2 separate regions of the Homo sapiens genome follow, and region 2 is linked to region 1. The links come from fine-mapping of genetic effects on gene expression. Tissue or cell type: uterus. Region 1 holds a variant in brackets; the other region holds the start of a gene. All regions are shown on one strand. Distances are between the middles of the regions.

Evidence for each region. PIP is the estimated chance that this variant, and not a neighbour inherited with it, causes the effect.
Region 2: H3-3A starts here. The variant in region 1 is fine-mapped to the expression of H3-3A in uterus (GTEx, PIP above 0.99).

What each region holds. Positions count from the first base shown.
Region 1 is chr1:225,465,983-225,468,660 of GRCh38, reverse strand. LINC02765 (long intergenic non-protein coding RNA 2765) reads left to right here and starts at 889. Exons shown (of 3, transcript NR_187303.1): 1 at 889-1,472. RefSeq lists enhancers at 517-796, 927-1,186, 1,237-1,536, 2,225-2,678. The variant C/A (reference allele first, on the strand shown) is at 1,215.
Region 2 is chr1:226,061,684-226,064,361 of GRCh38, reverse strand. It overlaps H3-3A (H3.3 histone A), which reads right to left and starts at 1,646. Exons shown (of 4, transcript NM_002107.7): 1 at 1,551-1,646; 2 at 1-33. The coding sequence starts at 10. It overlaps H3-3A-DT (H3-3A divergent transcript), which reads left to right and starts at 1,867. Exons shown (of 2, transcript NR_185887.1): 1 at 1,867-2,678. RefSeq lists an enhancer at 1-44 and silencers at 1,238-1,307, 1,926-2,091, 1,678-2,527.

The DNA of each region.
Region 1 (2,678 bases):
AGCTGGGGGGAGCCCCTCAAGGACCACCTGGTGCAAACCTCTCCAGTTACTGATGAGGAAACTGAGCTCCAGGGGGTCTTTAAGGACCTCATCCAAGGGATCTGGTCAGAGGAGAGCATGGTGCTTTTGTGCACAGCCAGGTCCAGGTCTTCCGGGGCACTTCTAAAAGGAGTTTGGGGAGCAGCGTGTGGTTTTTGGGGAGCCCCCACCCACTCCCCAGTGCCTGTGGCTTTGAAGCTAGGGCTTCCTGCATGGCCCTGTTGGGCCCTGCTGATCCTAGAGGTCTCACGGCTCATGGCCCAGGGTCCCTAAGGTTGTGTCCACCTTCTGGCTTTCTGGCCCCTTAACCTTTGGCAAATACTTGCCGGTCTAACTTGAGTTCCTTGCTAGAGCTTGTTTCTTTCTTCATGTTTGAAAGAACATAAAAGAGAGAGAAGGGACAGTTAGAGCTATTTATGGAGCCGCAGCCCTAGAAAGCTCCTATCTGTTCTTTCTCCAAGCAGGAAAACCAATTGTAGGCCTCTGACCTCCTCCCTCTCCAGCTCCCAGTGGCCTCCGAGAGCCCCTTGAGCTGCAGAGAGATGCGGACTCTGCAGGCCCCTCACTGCCAGCACCTTCATCACCGAGAGCCTCCACCTGGGCTGGTGGTGGGGGTGGAGAGAATCAAGGAGCAGGAAGAGAGGTGAAGCGACACCGCCGAGGAGCCCCCTGCTCTGTTCTTCATCCTAGACACAGGGAGCACCGGCTTCTCCGCAGCCTTGCCTGGCGCTGCCCTGCAGCCACCCACCCCCCTTCTGAAGGATGCAGCCAGCACAGAGAGAGGGAAGCGAGACAGGAAGTGACCTCAATTTCCCCGGCCACAGAAAGGGCGGCTCCCCCTGCCTCTGCAGCTGGGTGTGAGTCCGCGGAGCTGAGAGCCTTGCCCTCTGCTCCATCCTCCTCTTTTGGGGGTCTCCGCGGTGTCAGGACTTGGAGAGCCTGGTCGTGGGACTTGATCAGAGAGGCCTTGAGTGCAGTGGGTGCTTATCTGGTGACTGTGGCCCTGAGGTCTGGGACAGACACTGCCAGTCTTTCTGGGCCACACCCACGGGGACTGCCAGCCCCCCTGGGCTTGGCACAGTGGAGGGGAGCCTCCACCACAGTGGAGGAGAGACACACCCAAGGCCCTGGATGTGCCCGGCTCTCTGCAGCTGTGGGTGCCTCAGGCCGGCCGC[C/A]GATGGGTCTCAGTTTCTGAGGGGGTGGCAGTGAAGTTGCAGAGAAGAAACCTATGAAGGTGCCCTGTCAACTGCCACACGCCGAGATGCACATTGACAGCCCATCACCGCCTCTTGCCTGTCCTCCCCGGGGACCGGCAGATCATGGGAGATGATTTGTCAAGGGGAGACACATTTGGGTGACACCAAGCCGAGCTTCCTGTCTTGAGACGCTTTCTGCTTTCTCATCTTCCTGCTAATGAGTTGCCTTTTGTGTGTGTAAGTTCAGAGGGCCTCTGTCACTGGTGTAACCTCTCCAGAACATTTGAACATGAAACAAACATCATTTCTCTAGATTAAATTAAATTAATTCCCAGCCGCACCTCCTGAGAGGAATCATCCACTGGGTTCCTGGGCGGGGAGGGGTCCTCACTGCATGTGTCAGAGGCGTGTGAACCAGAGCAACTCCATCTTGTATAGGGGCTGGGGAAAATGAGGCTGAGACCTACTGGGCTGCATTCCTAGATGGTTAAGGAAGTCACAGGATGAGATAGGAGGTCGGCACAAGATACAGGTCATAAAGACCTTGCTGATAAAACAGGTTGCAGTAAAGAAACTGGCCAAAACCCACCAAAACCAAGATGGCCATGAGAGTGACCGCTGGTCATCCTCACTGCTACACTCCCACCAGCACCGTGACAGTTTACAAATGCCATAGCAATGTCAGGAAGTTACCCTATATGGTCTAAAAAGGGGAGGCACGAATAATCCACCCCTGGTTTAGCATATCATCAAGAAATAACCATAAAAGTGGGCAACCAGCAGCCCTCAGGGCTGCCCTGTCTGTGGGGTAGCCATTCTTTTCTTCCTTCCTTTCTTTTTTCTTTCTTTCTTTTTTTTTTTTTTTTTTGATAGAGTTTCGCTCTTGTTGCCCAGGCTGGAGTGCAGTGGTGCGATCTCGGCTCACTGCAACCTCCTCCTCCTGGGTTTAAGCGATTCTCCTGCCTCAGCCTCCTGAGTAGCTGGGATTACAGGTGCCCATCACCATGCCTGGCTAATTTTTTGTATTTTTGGTAGAGATGGGGTTTCACCATGTTGGGCAAGCTGGTCTCGAACTCCTGACCTCAGGTGATCCACCCGCTTCAGCCTCCCAAGGTGCTGGGATTCCAGGCGTGAGCCACCGCGCCCGGCCCCTTCACTTCCTTAATAAACTTGCTTTCACTTTACTCTGCGGACTCACCCTGAATTCTTTCTTGCGCGAGATCCTAGAATCCTCTCTTAGGGTGTGGATCCGGACCCCTTTCCGGTAACGCATGGGCTCATGTGGGAGTCCCGAGGCTTTTGGGGGAACAGGAGCACTGCGTCGGCCTTGGCTTAATCCTGGGCACTCACTGCGGCTCCTCTGTTCCCTGAACAGTGTCCCCCCCGTCCAGGGGCTCAGAGATGTCCCCATGGGGTCCTCCTGGGTGGCCAGACTGTGCCCAG
Region 2 (2,678 bases), 600 kb before region 1:
TACGAGCCATGGTACAGAGACCTCCTTACTTACCTACCAGCATTGAAAAATCAAAAATCACCATATGCAACTACCAAACATACAACTTTTCCTGCCACGATCACCCCCTCCCCAAATCTGGAAATTATGATCAGTATAAAAAATAATGTTCGTATTGTTATATAATTTGAAAGGGTGAAGATTACGTCTACCCAAAATCTCTTCTTGAAACAAACTAGAGTACTAGAAAATTGTTAGCAGTATCAATCACCTCTCAAAATGCCAATTCTGAGCGACAAACGGCAAAACAAAAATACCTCGAACGGCCTTTGATCCAATTTATTTAATTAAAGCAGTAATTAGAAATGTCTGTAAACATTCCATCCACAAACAAGTCAAAAGAAAAAAGGCACAAACCACTGGAAGGTCGAGTCAAATTACAGCAAAAAAAAGGTCTTACTCCCCCCCACTTTGGCTGCCCCCCCTTCGTCTGACTGTTGATGGATTGCTGTAAATATCTGAAAATATTCTTGGTTTTGCATCTTTACAGTTATGTTGACAAAAAGGCGTCTCGAAAAAACAAGAGAGGAACAACAGCTACCACCAGCGAGCATTCTACAAAGCCCCGTCCTCGCGTCCAGTCCTCACAGGCTTCGCAGTGAAATAAAAAGTGCCCCGCACCCAGGCTTTAATTAACGCACGACATCCGCCGACCGGTCCACCCCAAGCACCACATAAACTTTTGGTTTTGCCTCCTTCGGGTCCCTCGGCACAGGGTCCCCCAACCTGCCCGCCTCGCTCCCAGCGCCTCGAGCAGGAACCAACTCGGCTCCCCGACCAGAACAAAATGGAAACAATCGCAAAACGTATCCGATTCCGTTCCAAAGAGACAAAACACCAAATCGCTCGAAAATACCCCTATCCCCTGCCACGTGCCGCCCTCCAAAATGCAAAAGTTTTTTTTGCATTTCAAATGCATCAAGTTTCCGCCTCTCCAAAAAAGGGAAAAAAACGTCCCTCTTTTAAAAATTCTTGCTTTTTTGAAATGGGGAAGAGAGAAACGGGGGAAAAAATATGGTCGGTGACCAGAGAAGAGAGACAAGATGGTGAAGCTTAGCAACAACTGTGGGGAGGCAGCAAAAAGCGAGTTACCCCAGGGTGCGAAGCGGCGGCGATTTCCACCCCTTTCCCGCTCGAAAACTGGGGGCTGGGGCCCGGGGGCGGTAGTTAAGAGGCCCGCGCGGGTCATGGTGAAGGTTTGGGGTCCGGGGAAGGGGCGGCGGGCGGGATTTCACCGAAGAAAGAGGAGCCAGGGGCGCGGGGAGGAGGAGGGAGAGCAGGCTCGGCGCCGCGGCGGTTGCTGCTGTTGGGCTGAGGCGGCGAGAGACGGGGGAGCCGCCGCCGCCAGAGGGAACAGGGAAACTCGCTCCTCACCTCCATTTCTGGGCCAAAAAGTTTGTGGGCTAAGCCGGAGGGGCTATGGGTCCCCTCCCGGCACCGCCAGGGCCCGGCTCGGGGCTGACGGCAAGCGGGGCTCGGTTCCGGGGAAGCGGGCAGACGGGGAAACTTACCCCCCTTCTCCTTCGGCTGGAGCTCGGCGAGCGAGAGGCGGCGCTGGCGTTGGAGAGCGACGGCGGCGCGGCGGCGGCTGCGAACACAATTGAAAGATGGCTGACACCGAGGCTATCCCCCAACACACGCCGCCCCGCCCCCGCGCCGCGCGCCAGCCAATCACACACAATGGAGGGAAGGCTCGGCCCCGCCCCCATAGCTCCTCTCGCGCCCCGCCCCCGCCCTTCCCCCCGCGCGCCCGTTCGCTGGCGCGCGCTCGCCCCTCCCCCGCGCGCCGCCCGCTCCCTCCTCCAGGCCGCCTCGCGCCGTGTGTGTACAAACACAAAAGACACGCTGAGGGGCCGCCGGCTCCCGCCGAGACTGCCGCCCGCACCCGGCCAGCCCCCGCCCCCGGCCCTGCACTCCCATCCCGCTCCGTGTGCGCACGGCGTCGAACCCCCGAAGCCCGGGTTTGGGGCGCCCGGAGGGAAGTGGGGGGAGGGGAAGGCGGGCGGAGGCGCGGCGGGTGAACGCCCGGCCTGCGGGCGTCTCGGGCCGCGGCGGGGAGGGGAGGGAGGGGCTGCCCCCGCGCGGGCCCCGGCGCGCGCCCCCGAGGAGACCCGGGCGGCAGTGGGGGAGGAGGACGCGGTCGGCCGGGTCGCCGCGCCCCATTGGAAAACGCTCCCCAGCAGGAAGCTGGCAAATAGGAATCCAGCGTCCCGCGCCCGCTGTCGGACCTGGCCGCTGCGGCAGCGGGAGGGGCGGACCGACGGCCTCCTTCCCGCCTGCGCGCTCGGCCAAGTGCGGCCGGGTCCTGCGGGACCGGCCCGAGTCCGCCGTAGACAACTTGATCCGCTAAGACTCCTGGGCCGGCCGCCTGCGTGCAGGGCAGCCCCTCGCCGGTGTTGGCCTCCGGGATCAGGGGACGGGGCTCGCTCTCCTCCCGGGCCCGGGCCCCCGACGCAAGATGGCTGTGTCGCGTCGGCCTCTAAACAATGTGTGGAGCGCGCAGCTCCTGCACCAGGGCCTGGTGGCTTGTCCTGCCCGCCCGTGGGGGCCGTGTGATCTGTTTTCGGTAGGATTGCTTTGGAAAGGAATTGCCGAATATAGATAGTCAAATGTCCGCAGCTTCTGCATAGTTTAGAAGA